2 separate regions of the Homo sapiens genome follow, and region 1 is linked to region 2. Evidence: fine-mapped expression QTL. A gene starts in region 2. The other region holds a variant in brackets. All regions are shown on one strand. Distances are between the middles of the regions. Region 1 overlaps MAU2 (MAU2 sister chromatid cohesion factor). Region 2 holds the start of TM6SF2 (transmembrane 6 superfamily member 2).

What was found.
Region 1: its variant is fine-mapped to the expression of TM6SF2 in cerebellum (GTEx, PIP 0.91).

The regions. Positions count from the first base shown.
Region 1 is chr19:19,326,826-19,332,192 of GRCh38, forward strand. All of the region lies in intron 1 of MAU2 (MAU2 sister chromatid cohesion factor), which reads left to right. Among named protein-coding and RNA genes, the nearest start is that of MAU2, 8.7 kb to the left of the region's middle. The variant C/T (reference allele first, on the strand shown) is at 2,432.
Region 2 is chr19:19,271,337-19,276,703 of GRCh38, forward strand. It overlaps TM6SF2 (transmembrane 6 superfamily member 2), which reads right to left and starts at 1,965. Exons shown (of 10, transcript NM_001001524.3): 1 at 1,785-1,965. The coding sequence starts at 1,879. It overlaps SUGP1 (SURP and G-patch domain containing 1), which reads right to left. Exons shown (of 14, transcript NM_172231.4): 14 at 4,697-5,338. The coding sequence ends at 5,312.

The DNA of each region.
Region 1 (5,367 bases), 55 kb after region 2:
AGGCTACAGTGAGCTGTGATCGTGCCACTGCACTCCACCCTGGACAACAGACCGAGACCCTGTCTCAAAACTTTAAAAAAAGAATCCCCATCAGAGTCAAAGAGGGTATGTCTTCCTTTCCTCAGCAACTTTTTAAAAATTTGATTGTATTTATTTTTATATTTTCTATAGAGCTAGGGTCTAACTGTGTTGCCCAGGCTGGTCTTAAACTCCGGGCCTCAAGCAATCACCTGCCTTGGCCTCTCAAAGTGCTGGGATTACAGGTGTGAGCCACCACACACAGCCTCCCCAGGAGCTTTTTTTTTTTTTTTTTTTAGATGGACTCTCACTCTGTTGCCCAGGCTGGAGTGCAGTGGCGCAATCTCAGCTCATTAAAACCTCTGCCTCTCAGGTTCAGACTATTCTCCTGCCTCAGCCTCCCAAGCAGCTGGGATTACAGGTGCCTGCCACCATGCCAGGCTAATTTTTTCTACTTGTATTTATTTATTTATTTATTTATTTATTTATTTATTTATTTTGAGACAGAGTCTCGCTCTGTCGCCCAGGCTGGAGTGCAATGGCGCGATCTCGGCTCACTGCAAGCTCCGCCTCCTGGGTTCATGCCATTCTCCTGCCTCAGCCTCCTGAGTAGCTGGAACTACAGGCGCCTGCCACCACGCCCGGCTAATTTTTTATATTTTTAGTAGAGACGGGGTTTCACCGTGTTAGCCAGGATGGTCTTGATCTCCTGACCTCATGATCCACCCGCCTCGACCTGCCAAAGTGCTGGGATTACAGGCGTGAGCCACTGCGCCCGGCCTCTACTTTTATTAGAGATGGGGTTTCACTATGTTGGCCACACTGGTCTCGAACTCCTCAGCAGCTTTTTTGGGGTCACAGTAGTTGGTGTCTCGGTGACTCTTGCCTCTGTAGGGCCTCAGAACACCTGCCGGCCGCCTTGTTCCCTGGGTCTGCTCAGCAGATTCTGGAGCTGTTACAGTGCATGGCAGGACACTTTACCTGAAAGCCTTCCTTCTCTGAGTATGGTTTTGGCAGTGATGTGGGTGTGTTTTGGCTGCTCTGGGACTCCCCTAAGTAAATAGTTGATGACTATAAGCATTGTCACTTTACTTAGACATTTCTTGGCTAGAGAATTCGCAGTGACCAACCTGGGCACTACCCTGTCTCTACAAAAAATTTGAAAATTAGCGGGCCCGTGGTGGCTCACATCTGTAGTCCTAGCTACTTGGGAAGCTGAGGCGTGAGGATCACTTGAGCCCAGGAGGTCGAGGCATCAGTGAGCCGTGTTCCTGCCACTGCAGTCCAATCTGGGTGACAGAGAGAGACCCTGTCTCAAAAAAAAAAAAAAAAAAATTTTGCAATGCCATTTCTGCAGATTCTGACAGGTTGTGTTCTTCTATATTTTGCTTTCCTCTTGTTCTCTCTCTTCTTGCTGTACACCCATCCCTGTAAGTTTTCATTCTTCTCCTCTCTTCCAGGCCCTATGGCTTTTTTCTTATTTTCCCACCTGTCTTTTAAGCAGACAGATCCATCTTGGTCATTTGGACATCTGCTGTTGAATCAAGAGAATGTACCTGCATATCCGTTTCCCCCTTAACTTTTTTTTTTTTTTTTGAGACAGAGTCTCACTCTGTTGCCCAGGTTGGAGTGCAGTGGCGTGATCTCGGCTCCCTGCAAGCTCCGTCTCCCGGGTTCATGCCATTCTCCTGCCTCAGCCTCCCAAGTAGCTGGGACTGCAGGCGCCCACCACCATGCCCGGCTAATTTTTTGTAATTTTAGTAGAGACGGGGTTTCACCATGTTAGCCAGGATGGTTTCGATCTCCTGACCTCGTAATCCGCCCGCCTCAGCCTCCCAAAGTGCTGGGATTACAGGCGTGAGCCACCGCGCCCAGCCACCCCTTTAACTTTCTTACTTCTGATCACAGTCCCTTTTATCCCTTGGCCTGGGAAGTGCACCATCATTCTTAGGTTTTCCTGGTTTGAAAGCCACCCAGGACTAAATGCCGCCTCTCTGGAAGAACTTACTATTTTCTATAATCCAGGCAGTCATTCTTTGAACAGTGGTGTTTTCTGACTGCGTATGCCATGCTTGCTTTCTCTGTGTCAATGCCATGCGTGCTTTCTCTGTGGTTGGAACAGGGCTGCTTTTTAATGGTGGTTTTGCTCATCTGACTTAGAAAGCAGCTCCAGACTGTGCTGGTCAGATACTTAATTCTGCATCCAGGTTTAGCCTGAGCATCTATGGTTCACTTTCTCAGCAAGTGATTAAATGCTTCCTTTTCTCTTAAGACCCAACAGGGCTAGGTTCTGAGCCTCTCCTCATCAGGCCCAGCGTAAGCAGTTCTTTCATTCTTCAGGATCACAACTGTGTCCTGCTAAATTCCGTGTCCCATCTGCAGGGAGCAGAGACTTGTGCAGAGCTGGCCGTTA[C/T]GCAGTTTCATGAAGTGATCTGTGCTTCCTCCTGTTTTTGTTTCTATTTCCTTCCCTCTCACTCTTGAGTCACCTCTGACTTCAGGATGTGAAATCTGTTTAGGAACCATCACCTCACGGTTCTACCAGCTGGTCCCTTCCTCTCCCACCCCGGTTCTTCTACTTCCTGATTGCCAGTTACTATAGCATCATTGGCACCTACTACATGCCAGGCCCTGCATTGGTGCTTCACAGAGCAAGGTCTCCCTGGATCCTCAACAAATTAACAGGGTAAGGCCCACCTCAGACTCACCTGTGATGACACCCAGCCACTGCAGGAGAATGTGCTTAGCCACAGTCACACAGCAGCAAGAGGCCAGGGAAGCTGCTAAATGCTGTGCTTCCATCCCAGAGGTGTTGCAAGCAATAGGGTAGTTTAAAAAAAAAATGATTTTGAGCCAGGCATGGTGGCTCATGCCTGTTATCCTAGCACTTTGGGAGGCTAAGGCGGGAGGAGTTTGAGACCAGCCTGGGCAACATAGCCAGACCCTGTCTCTTAAAAAAAAAAAAAAATTGAAAAATTAGCCACACATGCCTATAGTCCCAGCTACTTGGGAGGCTGAAGTAGGAGGAGTGCTTGAGCCTGAGAATTCAAGGTTACAGTGAGCCATGATTGCACCACTGCATTCCGGCCTGGGTGACAAAAACCCTGTCTTTTTAATTATTTATTTATTTATTTATTTATTTATTTTTTATTTTTTTGAGATAAAGTCTCACTCTGTCACCCAGGCTGGAGTGCAGTGGCGCAATCTTAGCTCCCTGCCACTTCTGCCTCCTGGGCTCATGTGGTTCTTTTGCCTCAGCTTCCAGAGTAGCTGATGTGACAGGCACACACCACCATGCCCAGCTAATTTTTGTATATTTTGTAGAGATGGGGTTTTGCCATGTTGCCCAGGTTGGTCTCAAACTCCTGAGCTCAAGCAGTCCACCTGTCTTGGCCTCCCAAAGTGCCAGGATTACAGGCGTGAGCCATTGCTCCCAGCCAACCCTGTCTCTTATAAAAACAAAACAACAACAGGCCAGGCATGGTGGCTCACGCCTGTAATCCCGGCACTTTGGGAGGCTGAGGTGGTAGTATCTCCTGAGCCCAGGAGTTTGAGACCAGCCTGGGCAAGATAGCGAGACCCCCATCTCTACAAAAAAGTAAAACAATTAGTTGGGCCTGCCAGGCGCCATGGCTCACGCCTGTAATCCCAGCACTTTGGGAGGCCAAGGCGGGTGCATCACCTGAGGTCAGGAGTTCGAGACCTGCCTGACCAACATAGAGAAACCCCGTCTCTACTGAAAATACAAAATTAGCCAGGCGTGATGGCGCATGCCTGTAATCCCAGCTACTCGGGAGGCTGAGGCAGGAGAATCGCTTGAACCCGGGAGCCGGAGGGTGCCATGAGCCAAGATCACACCATTGCACTCCAGCCTGGGCAGCAAGAGCGAAAATTCATCTCAAAAAACAAAATTAGTAGGACCTGGTGAGATGCACCTGTAGTCCCAGCTACTTGGGAGACCGAGCCAGGAGGATCTCTTGAGCCCAGGAGTTTGAGGTTACAGTGAGGACCACTGCACTCCCCCTGGGTGGCAGAGGGATACCATGTCTAAAAACTACAATCAAAAAAAGCCTTTTTTTTAAAAGTTACTTTGGTTTTAAGGAATAAGAAGCCTTGAAACACTCAGCCCTGGACTGAATCCTCCAGGCACCAGAGCTGTGCTGGTCTGGACCCTTCCACCCCACTTGAAACCTGTTGGCCCTGTTGCAACCCTCTCTTGCTTTCCCTGAGAACCCTAAGGTGACCCCAGGGGCTGCTGATGGAGACAGTCACCTCCTTGCCCTGCTCCCTGCAGCCTCTCACTTTGGCTGCTTTGCTATCATAAGGAAGGAAACATAAAAGCTACTTTTTAGCATTACAAAGTTAAAAAAAAAAAACACCCGGGCACGGTGGCTCACACCTGTAATCCCAGCACTTTGGGAGGCCGAGGCAGGCAGATAACAAGGTCAGGAGACCGAGACCGTCCTGGCTAACATGGTGAAACCCGATTTCTACTGAAAATACAAAGAAAAATTAGCCAGGCGTGGTGGCGGGCGCCTGTAGTCCCAGCTACTCAGGAGGCTGAGGCAGGAGAATGGCGTGAACCTGGGAGGTGGAGCTTGCAGTGAGCTGAGATCGCGCCACTGCACTCCAGCCTGGGCGACAGAGTGCAACTCCGTCTCAAAAAAAAAAAAATCACGTAGATGAGGTAGCAACCTTGGGTAAGGCATTCTACATCCTTTATTTGTGAGATGGATATATTTTTCTGATTTCCAAATATATGCTACAAGTCATACAGAGGGCTGGGTGAGGTGGCTCACAACTGCAATCCCAGTACTTTGGAAGGCTGAAATGGGACGATCACCTGAGCCCAGGAGTTCAAGACCAGCCTGTGCAGCATAGCAAGACCTTCCCTGTCTCTACAAAAAAAAAAGAAAAACAAAACTCTAACAAAGATACAAAAGTGAAGTCATTTAGTAGGTGTCAGATTGATGGCCCTGGGGAATTGACTGGCTCACCCTGACACCAGGCCCATACTGCCCTTCAGGAATGTGTGTCCTCATGCAGAGAGATCCAGGTGTCACTGATGTCCCAGTGAAGAAGCAGTGGCATTTAAAGACAGGGAGAAATCCCATGCCATTTAGGGCTTTGTGTCTGAAAGGCATACGCCTCCGTTCTGTGGCCATTTGCACTTACACAGAAGCCCTCACTTTCCTCTAATGAACTCTACTCATTATCCAAGTGGATAAAGCCATCGTTCGATCAGCAGATGTTTCCCGAGCACCTACTGGATGTCAGCTTGCTGCAGGCATTGCAGCCACAACTTTAAAGTCAAACATCATGGGGCTTTTTTTTGTAAGAGTCAGGGTCTTG
Region 2 (5,367 bases):
AGTCTTTTCCACTTGGCAAACTCCTACTCATCCTTCATGGCCCATCCACATTGTTCTTCCTCCATGAAGCGCTCCCTGACTCCCCAGAAAGGATCACTGTTTAACTCGGGCTAGCTACAGAGGGGATATTCATCAGCCTGTTTCTTTTTCTCTTTTCTTTTCTCTTTCTTTCTTTTTTTCTTTTTCTTTCTTTCTCTCTCTCTCTCTCTTTCTTTTTGAGACAGAGCACTGACACCCAGGCTGGAGTGCAGTGGTGCAATCTTGGCTCACTGCAACCTCTGCCTTCTGGGTTCAGGCGATTATCCTGCCTCAGCCTCCCAAGTAGCTGGGATTACAGGTGCCCACCACCACACCCGGCTAATTTTTGTATTTTTAGTAGAGACGGGGTTTCACCATGTTGGCCAGGCTGGTCTCGAACTCCTGACCTCAGGTGATTTGCCCACCTCGGCCTCCCAAAGTGCTAGGATTACAGGCATGAGCCACCACGCCTGGCCTGCCCCTTCTGACTTTACCATTTATCCCATCATTTGTTATGTGTTTGACTCAGTCTGTTCAGTCATTCGACAACGTCAAGCCCCTCTGTGGCCAGGCCCAGCTCCCAAGCCACAGGGTCTCGAGTGCTCAGTTCTGTAGACTTCATTGTCTGACGCTCCCAGCTCCTCCCAGCTAAAGTCCAAATGCCTCTATTAACTCCACCCTACCCCTGCCCTGATCTGCACCCACAACCTGATAAGACAGGTCAACCAGTTGCATAGATAACAGAAGCCAGGTCTCTGGGCAGCCCTCAACCCAGGTGGGCAAATCCAGGCCCAGAGAGGATGGGAGTACTGTCCAGTTGTCCAGGGTCACACTCAAGACTCTGTCCATCACTCTCCAGGCCCCTATTTTCTCATGATCCCCTCAGAACCCAAGATTTCCATCCTGACCCCATCTAACAATGACATTATAGTACTCAGATGAGACCAAGACAAATCTTTGTACACAGTTTATAATCCTTAACCGTAACTATGAGATGAGATCTAGGATCGTGCCCATTACACTGATGAGGGAACTGAGGCTCCCAGAGGAACTTGGCTCACCCAGGATCCCAGGAGATGGAGATGGGTATTCCCACCCAGGGAGCCAGGCTCATGGTTAAGACTCTCTCCACCCCATGGCTTGGGTTGAGCTGGGTTTAGAAGTACGAGGGGCTTGCAGATGCCCACTATCCGGTGGCTGGACCCACAGGGCTAGGATCTAGGGTTAGGAGACAGGGACCAGGAAAGGGAACCAGTAGGGGGAACTGAGTCTAGGGACATGGTTAGCCAGCCCTGAACAAGAGGAAAGTCACAGGCCTGAGACAGGCAATGGAGTAGGGTGTGTGTGTGTGTGTGTGTGTGTGTGTGTGTGTGTGAGCAGGAGTCAGGTACCCGGGGCCTTATCTGGGACAATACTTTTACCCTTGGTGACTTTGGAACCTAGGCAGGGCGCATCCCTGGGAAAACCCCAGAAACCCTCCAAAGCTCTGGCTTGTGGGGACTCATCATTCCTTCTTCCCAGGCCACAAACATCCCAGGAGCGGCCGCATCCCAGCCTCCAGCCCGGCGGGAAGGGGACTTCCGGTTAGAGGGGGGTGTTCTTCTGGCCCACCCCAATCCTGCCGGGTCGGAGCTGAGCTGGGGCGCAGGGCTCGCAGAAGCCAGGTCCGCGGACCGCGCATCCTCCCTCCAGCCCACCTCCAGTCCTCCCCGCCCCCGCCCGCCCCCACTGTCCCCAAGGCCGCCCTGGCCCCTCTCCGCACGCACTGCGAGAGCGCCGAGACGTGGTTGAGCGCGTAGGACACCGGGAGGGCGCTCAGCGACAGCGCCGCGATCTTGCCGGCCAGCGGCGGGATGTCCATAGCGGCGGCTGCTGGACCCCGGCTCAGCCCCGACGCGTTCTCCAGGGCGCTCGGCTCCTCGTTGGCGGCGAGTCCGGGCCGAGGCTGCCAGGGACCCGCCCCGCACAAAGGTCGACCCCGCTGCGCCCTGGGCAGGCCGCCGTGACCGCCCTGCGTGTTCCCAGGGAGCCTCCAAGGCCCCTCCCCGGCCCTCCCCCTGGCAGCTGCCCCGCCCCTTCGCCCCTCACCATCGACACCCTCGTCTCCAATGGCCGTCCCGCTACTCAGCCTCAGTTTCCCTCACTGTCAAAGGCTGGGACACAACACCTCGGGATGCTTCTGCTCTTAGGCCAAGGGGTGCGCCCTGGAGGTCCTGGCGTGCCCCCTCTTTCCCCTGCCTCCACAACTTCGTTCTAAGGAAATTTTCTCCTGGACTCTGCGCTTCTAAACCTCTGCATTCCCCAGAGTTTCCCATCCCCACCCAAAGATCAAGTCGGCATTCCCTGTGCGCACGGATGGAGCAACCTCCAGCTCTTGGGTGCAAAATGCCTTTCAGTGGGCTTAGATTTGAGTTTTCATAAGGTGGCCACAAATGTAAACGTGTTTCCAGGCAGGTGTGAAGTTTTTTTGTTTGTTTTTTGAGAGGTCTCACTCTGTGGCCCAGACTGGAGTGCAGTGGCCCTCCTCCTTGAACTCCCAGCCTCAAGAGATCCTCCTACCTCAGCCTCCCAAGTAGTTGGGACTACAGGTATGCACCACCACGCGCAGCTAGTTATTTTTTGTAAAGACAGAGGTCTCACTTTTTTGCCCAGACTGGTTTCAAACTCCTGGGCTCAACAGATCCTCCCACATCAGCCTCCCGAGGAGCTGGGATTACAGGCGTGAGCCACTGCGAGGGGTCTTTAAGTGTGAGGCTTTGACTCCGGGGCTGTCCCTTTGCAGGCTAGTCCCGGGTTTAGGGTTCTTCATTTCGGGGAGAGGGTAGAAGGGGTCCTAGCGGGTGGGGGCTGAAGTTAGAATATCGGGATGGAGCCAGTTTGGTGAAGAGTTTGGGAACGGTGTTCCTGGCAGGGAGGAAAGTGGCTCAGGCTTGGAACTGAGCAGTGGAAAGGAGGTCGGTTCTGCTGGGGTGTGATGAGAAGCGAGACAGCTGTGAGAGGCTGTGGGAGGTTTTGAACAGCTGGGAGGGGGCCACAGTATTGGGGGGGAGAATAAGGAGACCATCTGTCTTTGTCACCCCCTCCAACCAGACTCTGGCCCATGTGGAGTACTTGTGGATGCTGCAGACAGCAAGGTGAACCATGCCCACCTGACGCCTGCCCTGCGGGACCCCAGTCTGCAGCTGGCACAAATTCTAACCACTGCCCCTACCTCAGGCCCCATTCTGCACGCAGCCCCTTAGCTTGATGCCAACTGGGTCACAGGTCTTCCTGAACTGGGCCACAAGAGGGTCTTCTGGCCGCAGGTCTGACTCAGCCTCCTTCCCCAGGTGTCCACTGCCCATGGGTGAAGTTCAGGTTCCCCTGGACTTTCCCCAACTCTAGCAGGGTCAACACCCCCCAGGCCTGCTTTCTGTCTGTAAAATGAGCCTTCTTGTAAGCGGGCCCCAGCATCCCCTCCTCCAGGCAGCCCTGCCTGCCACCCCCACCCCACCTTCTCCACACAAGGCCAGGGTGCCTGTGCCCAGCTCAGCCTAGGGGCTTGGCCTTGTCCCGTGTACAGGATGCACCTGCACACGCACACAGCACTTGGAGGCCTCGTCCCCTGGCAAGGGGTAAAGTCCATGCCCTGAGCCTGGTGAGCCTCCAGGTTGCTGAGAACTGAGAAGTGACTTGGATGGCTGAATGCCTGGGACCCAGTGCCAGGATTCCCTGAACCACTGGCTGCAGAGAACTACCCCGCTGTGCTCAGGGTCCTGGCCCACTGCCTTCTGGGCAGCCCTCATTCATGGGCACCCAGGCCAAGCCCACCAATGTTACTCTTTGCTCTGCCTCAGCCACAGCGTCAGGAAAGAACAAAGGGTGGTATATCACCCCAGCCTTGGCTCTGCCACTGCATCTGGCACCTCCCTGGTCTCAGACCCCACTGAGACACTCTGCAGACCGCCCCACCACGGCTCCCTGGTTCCTCTCAGTAGCAGCCTCAGACCTCATCCCCAGCAGCCTGGCTGACTGGAGTAGATCTTGTCCACCTGGTCCCCACACTTGGCACCTAGTGTTTGCTGAATGGCTGTGTGAACACAAGCTGGCCCAGGAGCCCGACTCCATGCCAAGCATGTGAATAGGGAGCCCCTGGTGCCTGCAGGGGCTGGGCAGCACCCACTGGGTGTGTGTGGAGGGGGTGGGGGCAGATGGAAATGCAAATTCCCAGGGCCCTGCCCAACCAGCTGACTCGGCAGCTGCAGCTTAACAAGATCCCCAGGGTGACTTAGGCACAAATGTGGGGCTCTGGCCCTGGGGCAGATGTGGGGGTCTTGGCACACACTGTGGCCTGGGCTACCCTCCTGCCTCAAAACCTCCGGCTCTGAGGCCCTTCCTTCTAGGAGCTGCCTGACATGTTGGCATGGCACATCCATGCATCCATGCGGCTGTCCCCTAACGACACAAGCCCCAGGGACTCGTGTGCCTACCACACTGGTGGGACCTGAAGGGCCACAGCCAACACCTGTGTGCTGGGCCGTGCCAGCACCACCTGCCAGGAGAGCACATGGGTGTGCCCAGAAGCCACCTGCCCCCACAGGTCTGAGGGAAGGTGGGGCCCTGCCTGGAGACCCCTCCCCAACCTCCCTCTGCAGCACAGTGCTAGGCTCGGAGGTTCCTGACATTCCTTTAGCCCAGGTGTGGCCAAGTCTCCAGCTTTATTATTATTATTATTATTTGAGACAGAGTCTTGCTCTCTTGCCCAGGCTGGAGTGCAAAGGCGCAATCTTGGCTCACTGCAACCGCTTCCCAGGTTCAAGCCATTCTCCTGCCTCTGCCTCCCGAGTAGCTGAGACGACAGGTGTGCACCACCATGCCCAGCTAATTTTATATTTTTAGTAGAGACAGGATTTCACCATGTTGGCCAGGCTGGTCTTAAACTCCTGACCTCCAGTGATCCGCCCGCCTTGGCCTCTCAAAGTGCTGGGATGACAGGGGTGAGACACTGCACCTGGCCTTCCAGCTTTACTATGCTGAAAACAACTTTCTTCCTCCCCTCCAGTGCAACCCAGGCTGAGCGGGGATGGAGACTCCACAGGCCAATAAGGAGAGCCCCGAGACAGCATCTTGCATCCCGCTGCTAACAGGAGGGGCTTCCTGCAACAGGACCAGGCATCTGTGGTGGATGAGCACTGGGACTTTATTACACGGCACGGCACTCGTGACAACGGAAGGGGTGGGCAGAAATGCAGGCCGGAACATTCCACAGTCCAGGGACGGTTGGTCATTCAGAAAGTATGTATTTCCAGAACACTCAGTAGTAAGGCCGTCTGGGATTGTTCTGTGGAAGGCAAAACAGATAACAGGAGG